Homo sapiens: one gene and its partner. Changing the gene in region 1 together with any one later gene gives a genetic interaction. Each region holds a gene or a part of one and is shown on either strand. Other genes may lie near its edges.

Region 1 (3,822 bases):
GCAACCCTTGCCTCGCTTGTCAACAGTGAAAAATTAGTTTGGTTAGAAGAACCATCTGGAAACACACCAGCTTCTGCTACCTTCATGCTCATTGTTAAAAAAAGATTAACCAGTGTGAACATTCTGATCTGTTAATTCCAGGGACTGTTTTCTTTCCAATGGACTGTTTGTTGGTAGAATAACCCCCAAAAGCTCAAAGCTAAAATGCATCATCAGTCCTAGTCGGCAGTTCCTTAAGAATGGACTGGCGGCGTGGTTGAGCTGATATGGAAAAGCTGCACCTTCCTGCAGAAGATCAACTGACCTGCTATCCCACCCCAAATTTCAGCCTGAGGTATATTTCAGTGAAGGCAGGTAGCTGTGCTTCTCAGAGCAGAGAAGCAGTTTTAAGAGCAAAAAGGTAGAGGAAATCTAGAAAAGAACCGTCTTGATACAGATTTATCCCATGGTGTGAAGGGAGGGCAAAGAACCCAGTGGCACTTCGCTTATCCAGCAATTTCTGTCACTGTGGTGACCAACTTCTGCCCGTTCCATAGGGTCTTGAACTGCTCAGGAACTGGGAATTCATTCTGCAAATAAAGAAGAGACAGCAGGTTTAAATCTGAGCTAAAGAACAGCTGGGGCTAAATCTCACACATTTCTCCCAATGCTTGCTTCCACTTAACCCCAGGAGCACGGTACAATGTAGCAAGAGACAAACCCACAGAGCCATGCTATGTTCTAGTGTTCAGCGATCTTGGACAGACTATTAAGTCTATGGGGTGTAAATAACAGTACATATGGCTTTATAGCACCAGCCTGACAAGGTGCCATGGCTCATCCCCATTATTTTTTGCTACCTTGAGCTCCACTTAGGCAGAAAGCACCTACCTTTGGGGCTCCACTACATGGGACTACCTCATTTCTGTGTACTTTTGGTGTGCATTATTGGGTTTTTACCTGCTCAGTGCAGAATGTTCATAAAATAGCTTTCTTCAATGCCAGAAATCTTCAGTCCCTTCTGTTTTTAACATCATACTAAAGAGATCAAGAAACTTACAAAGTCACCGCCTTCTGTAGGAATGAGGACATTCATCTCGGAAGATTTGGCACTGACTATTTCACAATCCAGGGAATTCTTGCTCAGGTAAGCATGGCAGCCATCTGTTTTGTTGATGGATATGGTTGGCACTTTACCCATTACCTGCAGAGTAAACAAAGAGAACTGAGTCCCAGTGGTTGGGAAGGACAACAGTAAGTCGCAGGAAAAGGTTTCCTGTTTCACGTGACTCAGCAACTACATGAAAAGCTCACAGATGCGCAAGACACTGGATACTCGGGTGGGTTGGGATGGGTCCTGAAAAGAACTTGCTTGAAGAGCCAACCCTTCTTCTGCCACGTCCAAAGCAGCTCAGCTTACAGACTTTGTAGAATCAGATTCCCACCAAAGCAACATCTGTGGGTCTACCATGTCTCTTTGAATTAATTCCTCAGGGACAAAAAGAAGGAGCCAAAATATCGAGTTACCTGAACTTTGACATCCTTACTGTTGATTATCTCCACAATGCCCACCACGTCATCGAATACCAGGCCAAGTTTCTTACAGTTATCTAGGAGAAGAAAGGGAGTGTGTCAACGTGTAACTTTAAAGGAAAGTAATATACATTTAGGAATCTTTAAGGATAGGGTAGGTAAAATGGTATTAGCCTTCTCGGGCTCTGGGACGGGGCTTGCGTGGGACAGCGACAAAGACTCACCTACTGTAATGGAGTTAATTTTGCCCTTGATTTGCAATGTCGTGTTGACACACTTGTATATGTAAGCCACCTGTTTCAGCTCTGTGTCCTCAATCACCAGGTTGGAAACATTTTCCTGATTTTCCTGTTAGAGAGAGATCCCAGGATTCTCATCACAAAGCACACACCGAACAAAAAATAACCAGGCTATCCCAAACTTTTTGTTCTTGCAATTGAAGCCAGAACTCTGCCCTCATCTAGCTAAGCTCCATTTAACCTCCTGTTCCTACTCCTTTTCCCCGGGAGGCGGAGGTTGCGGTAAGCCGAAATCGCGCCACTGCACTCCAGCCTGGGCGACAAAGTGAAACTCCATCTCAAAAAAATAAAATAATAAAAATACCTGCCCCTGTCTAGGTATTTTTAACTCACCACTCTCCACTTCTTGCCCTCCAGTTCAAGTACAGCTGGCTCCTTCTTTGTGGCTCGTTTGGGGGATGGGCTGGTTTGGGGTTTAGGTGCAGAGAATGGTTTGGGGCCACTGCGTACTGGACCACTCTGAGCCTTCAGGGCAGGGTTCTTGTGAGTCTTCATGTCATCAGATACATGTTTCAGGGCTGTAAGAACAACAGCTACCTTGTTCCTGTCCTTCATACCAGACCTTTGAGCTGCTATCGTCATGTTAAACATCCTTAACAGAAAATTCAAAGCCAAAACCAGAGCCTTTGAGATGTTCTCTTGCAAGCAGTTTTGGAAAAGTACTTTTATCATTTCTCTTCTCCCCAAGATTAAATTATATGGTTCCATTAACAACAACATGGAATGTGTGTATATTGTGGGTGAGGATAAGGATATGTAAATCCTTATCCTCTATGTCTAGAAAGACATATCAAATGTATGTGCACAAATATATAATTTTTAAAGCAATAAAGAAAAATGAGTGGTAGTAAAGAAAATTTGGTAAAAGGAAAAGAAAAAAATACCCTCACTCCCCACAGCTAACCCTACTTCCCCCACCTCCTCAGTCAGTGTTGGCATTTGCAACTCTACAATATTGTTTTCTACATATATTTGGTTTTGTTGGTTATAATCATACAGATTGTTAACAAATTTAGTTCAACTATTGACACTTAAAAACTTTCTCATGTTAACCTGTAGTTTAATATCTTTCTAGGCCAGGCGCTGTGGCTCATGCCTGTAATCCCACACTCTGGGAGGCCAAGGCAGGCGGATCACCTGAAGTTAGGAGTTCAAAACCAGCCTGGCTACCATGGTGTATTTTTAGTCTCTACTAAAAGTACAAAAAAATTAGCCGGGTGTGGTGGCAGGTGCTGTAGTCCCAGCTATTTAGGAGGCTGAGGCAGGAGAACTGCTTGAACCTGGGAGGCAGAGATTGCAGTGAGCCAAGATCACGCCACTGCACTCCAGCCTGAGCAACAAAGTGAGACTCCCATCTCAAAAAAAATAAAATAAAATAAAAAATAAAAGTAAAAATATATTTCTTTTATGTTTTAAGGGAAAAATAATTCATCATCTCCCACAGCAGGCTGACACACGCCTCGCTTTGAACATGGCCAGATCTATGTTAACTGTATAACAAATACTGAATGGCCTTTTTATCTCCACCATTCCTTGTGGTTGTAATTTACATACTAGATTTTTTTTTTCTTAAACATTACATGGTTCACTGTAGAAAAACATGTAATGGTGGCACAACATTTCATCAAGAGGCCGGGCGTGGTGGCTCACACCTGTAATCCCAGCACTTTGGGAGGCCGAGGTGGGCAGATCACCTGAGGTCAGGAGTTTGAGACCAGGCTGACCAACATGGAGAAACCCCATCTCTACTAAAAATACAAAAAAAAAAAATTAGCCAGGCATGGTGACGCATGGCTGTAATCCCAGGTACTCGGGAGGCTGAGGCAGGAGAATTGCTTGAACCTGGGAGGTGGAGGTTGCGGTGAGCCGAGATCGCGCCATTGCACTCCAGGCTGGGAAACGAGCAAAACTCCGTCTCAAAAAAAATAAAAAAATAAAAAACATTTCATCAAGAGGACATGTGGTAGTTAGCCATTTCTCTTACAGTTGGATTTAGGTTGTTACACCATTT
Region 2 (3,822 bases), on another chromosome or scaffold:
GCCCTGGTCACATAACCTCCTCTTAAGGGAACATAAAATTTAGTAAAATTCTAATAACAATGCAAAATACATCTCCTTTGACATTAAAAGAGGTGAGTCAAAAATTCGTGTGCACCTATGTTATAAAATCTAAATAAATTATCTGGTCTCTTTCCCAATTAGTTAAGATAAAGAGATATGTCACTTTCAATAATACTTATAATTTGAGGAATTTACTTACATTTTAGGTAATTTCTAATACCATTTTTTTATTATCGATACGGAAGTACGCTGGGTTTTTTGCTCTATATTTGGTAGTGGTGATTTTTTTTCAGTATCAATCTTCTCAGTCAAGATTAGCCTTGAAAAATTAAATATAGAGTTTTTTGGATTTTGATTTCCCTTTAAAGACTTCCACAGAACTAGATGTTTCTTCTACTTTGTTTTAATTTAAGGCAGAAAAATATGTTTTGTGCTTCACTGTTGAAGGATGCTTTTTTAGAGACAAGCAAACTCAAAAGCAGGAGAACCACCACTCTTGTCAGCCCTGCAGTCCACCCAGCCCAGGAAAAAACGATGTCAACTCAAATTCCCCCTTGGCAATGAAGTTTTCCTGACCATTCCAATTAACACTCCTCTCTAGCTTCCCTGCATTCTTTTTGTACTTATCATAGCTTACACTTGAACATTTAACTCTTCTTTAATTTTTTAACATTTGTTAGTTTTATTTCTCCCACTAGATCATAAGCTCAGGGCCTAGGCCTCCATCCTCTAAGGGATGACAAGGTCTTTACAGGATCCAGATTCCATCCCACATAACAACCTGATCCAGAAAGAGTCTGAAAACATCCTGGACAAGCATGAGAGGATTTAAAAACAAAGGGAACCTTCAAGTTTATCCAATTCAAGCCTCTCATTTTAGAGATAAGAGGGTGAAGGACTAAAGCACTTCTAAGAAACTTGTCTTACACTAATTAGTTGGAGGCAGAGCAGGAAGTGGAAAGCGGATCTCTTGACCTGAGTATTCTTTGTAGTACACTAAGCAAATTCTGCAAGAGAGCAGGACCATGGCTTATTGACTCTCGTGGACTGGTGTGGGCCAGTGCTTTGCACTTCAAGTAACAAACTCAAGCCACTCAAGTGTGGTCTGGGGACCAGCCACAGCATAAGCTGCGAGCTCATTAAGACAGACAGGCAGAATCTCAAGCCTCACCCCAGACCTCCTGATTCTGCATTTAAAACATAATCCCCAGGTGATATGTATGCACATTTTGGAAGCACTGAGGCATGTACTGCAATCCCTGACTCAAAGAGACAGCAAACTGACTACATTAACAATGGTTCTCAATCCAAGCTGCACATTAGAACCACCTGTGGAGTTTTCAAACTGTTGCTGGTGTCTCACCTCAGACCAATTAAGTCAGAATCTACCTAGCAGATTCCAGCACAGCAGCCAGAGTTGAGAACCACTGCACTCAATTCCTTGGAGACCCTCTTTTGAACTCAATGAACAGAGTCAATCAGGTAATCTGCAGCTACCTCAGGAGAGAAGTCCACAAACAACTCAAGATCTTCATGAACACCATAGCTCATCTGGAGTTCTCCAAATGCTAAAATCACCTCTGTTAATGCTCTCTTCTTGGAGCTTTGACCATGCTGAGACTGCCTTTGAAGTGGTCTTTACTACTGCCCGAAAAACTAATTTCTGGCAACTTGGCCAGTCTTGACCTGGCCCTCTGAAACTGCCAGTAGTCTTGTAACTTAAAATTGCTCCAAGTCCAACTACACTTCAGCTATTAGGTCTCCTTGCTGTCCATTCACCACAAAGCATGATGCTTCACTCTGTCACTGTAGAAGAATAATTAATAAGAAATGTCCAGCTGTTATAACCCAAACAACTTTCATTATAAAGAGAATACTTCCTCACAGCCAAAACTCTTCCAGTTATCTAAATAGAATGCCCTTCACCTAAGACCAAAATAAGAAATATTTAAATGAGAAAAAAACCCCAAATATGCTAGATGAAAATATAGGAGAACACATATTTTTTAATATGATAAAAACCCAGAAGTCATAAAAGACTGGTAAATTCTACGGCATGCAACGAATTCTTAACACCATAAAGTCAAAAGACATATCAAAATGTGAAAAAGCATTTGTAGCTCATATCATAGAAAAGAACTAATTTTTTCAATATAAAATAGCTTTAATTTCCTCAAAATATAAATAGTTCCACCAAATCAACAGGAAGGGGTCCAATAGCCCAATAAGAAAATGAGCAAAGGATACACAGATAGTTTACTAAAGAGGAAATACATGTAGATAAAAATATGTTCAATGTTAGCCATAAGAAAAATGCAAATTAAAAACTGTGATAACATTTTTTACCTATCAGATTGGCAAAGATCAAAAAGTATGAAAGGGAATGTATAGACAAAGACATGGATAAAACAAGCAGGCACTCTCATACATTGCTGGGGCAGGGGAGTTAAAATTAGCATAAGATCCCTGAAGAGCAGGTTGGCAAAAACTATCAAAATTTAAAATGCACACACCTTGGATCCAGAAATGTTACTTCTAATAATTTACCTTATGGATATAGTCACATATGTAGTAAATAAAATTCATACAAATGATTATTAACATATTATTTTAATAGTATAAGGTTGGAAACAACCTAAATTTCCATCAGTGAAGATTGGCTAAATAAATTATTTTATGTCCAAATAATGGGATAGTATGTAACCACAAAAATAATGAATGAGTTCTGTAAATATTGAGTAATGACCAAGGCTGACCATTAAGTTATTTTTTAAAGCGCAGAACAGTATGAATATATGCATGCTACCATATGTTTAAATGTAACTGTACAGGCTATGTGTACACTGAATATATCCGGAAAGATACCCAAGACCATGGTATCACTGGCAACCTCTAAAGGTTTGAGTAAGGAAAGTAGAAGGGTTAGAAAGGAGACTTAACTTTTTAATGTAAAACCTCTTTTGTGCCTATAAATACATGGCACTTCATTTTAAACAAATAATTAATTGCCCTTTGCACATATGCCTCCAGGCCACCACATTGCCAGAGTAGATTCCAATCTTAAACTTCTAAGGAGAAAATGTCCTATAGGTCTTATAGAATCCAAGAGAGACAAGCAAGTTTTCTAGTGTAGTGCCGATTGCATTTTGGATGGAGATCTAAGGATTTCCTGATAGAACACGTTTGGGTCTGTTTTAGTACAAGCTGTCATAGGGCTATGCCACCCAGCAAGCTATGTTATGCCTGCTGGAATCCAGCTAACAAAATAATTATAGGGCTTTTGTTGCTGAGTTTAACAAGATCTTCTCTAGACACATCTAAAAGAAAATGGGTGGTTATCTAAGGGTCTAAGCTCTACTTCAGAATAAGGCATTTTATATACGACTTCAACTCAAGTTAACTGCCCAGAATGATCAACTGCAGGAAGGGCTTGACAAGTCCATAAAGGAGGAAGACAACTGAAGTTTCTAGGTCAATGCCAGCACTGATCAAACAAGGCCTTCAAGGTCAGTGGAGCCCTGAGGAATAGGTCAAACCTAGGCCACAGATCTCAAGTGACTGTTCTTTGCTGCTGTAGAAGATCAAACCAATACTATCAGTAGCTGTTCAAAACTGATTAACCTTGGGGTAAAAAGAAGAAACTAGAAACTACTGCTAAGTAGAAAAGTTTATACTAGGTAGGTCGGACATTAAACCAATATCCATCCATTTTTTAAAGTTAAAGGTAAGTAATGTAGGCAAGGAACTGTTATGGATGTAGAAGATCCTCCAGAACACAATGCTGAATGTGTTAATACGACT

Evidence for each region.
Region 2: of CAP1 (region 1) and ATG10, changing one enhances a phenotype caused by changing the other (phenotypic enhancement), as found in Homo sapiens cells (one large-scale study listed by BioGRID).

What each region holds. Positions count from the first base shown.
Region 1 is NC_000001.11:40,068,197-40,072,018, reverse strand, and holds part of CAP1 (adenylyl cyclase-associated protein 1), read right to left. Parts: intron 2,330-3,822; coding exon 2,145-2,329; intron 1,861-2,144; coding exon 1,737-1,860; intron 1,590-1,736; coding exon 1,507-1,589; intron 1,184-1,506; coding exon 1,040-1,183; intron 570-1,039; coding exon 486-569; 3' UTR 1-485. UniProt on the Homo sapiens protein: Directly regulates filament dynamics and has been implicated in a number of complex developmental and morphological processes, including mRNA localization and the establishment of cell polarity.
Region 2 is NC_000005.10:82,051,733-82,055,554, reverse strand, and holds part of ATG10 (ubiquitin-like-conjugating enzyme ATG10), read right to left. Parts: intron 324-3,822; exon of another isoform or gene 221-323; intron 1-220. UniProt on the Homo sapiens protein: E2-like enzyme involved in autophagy. Acts as an E2-like enzyme that catalyzes the conjugation of ATG12 to ATG5. ATG12 conjugation to ATG5 is required for autophagy. Likely serves as an ATG5-recognition molecule. Not involved in ATG12 conjugation to ATG3.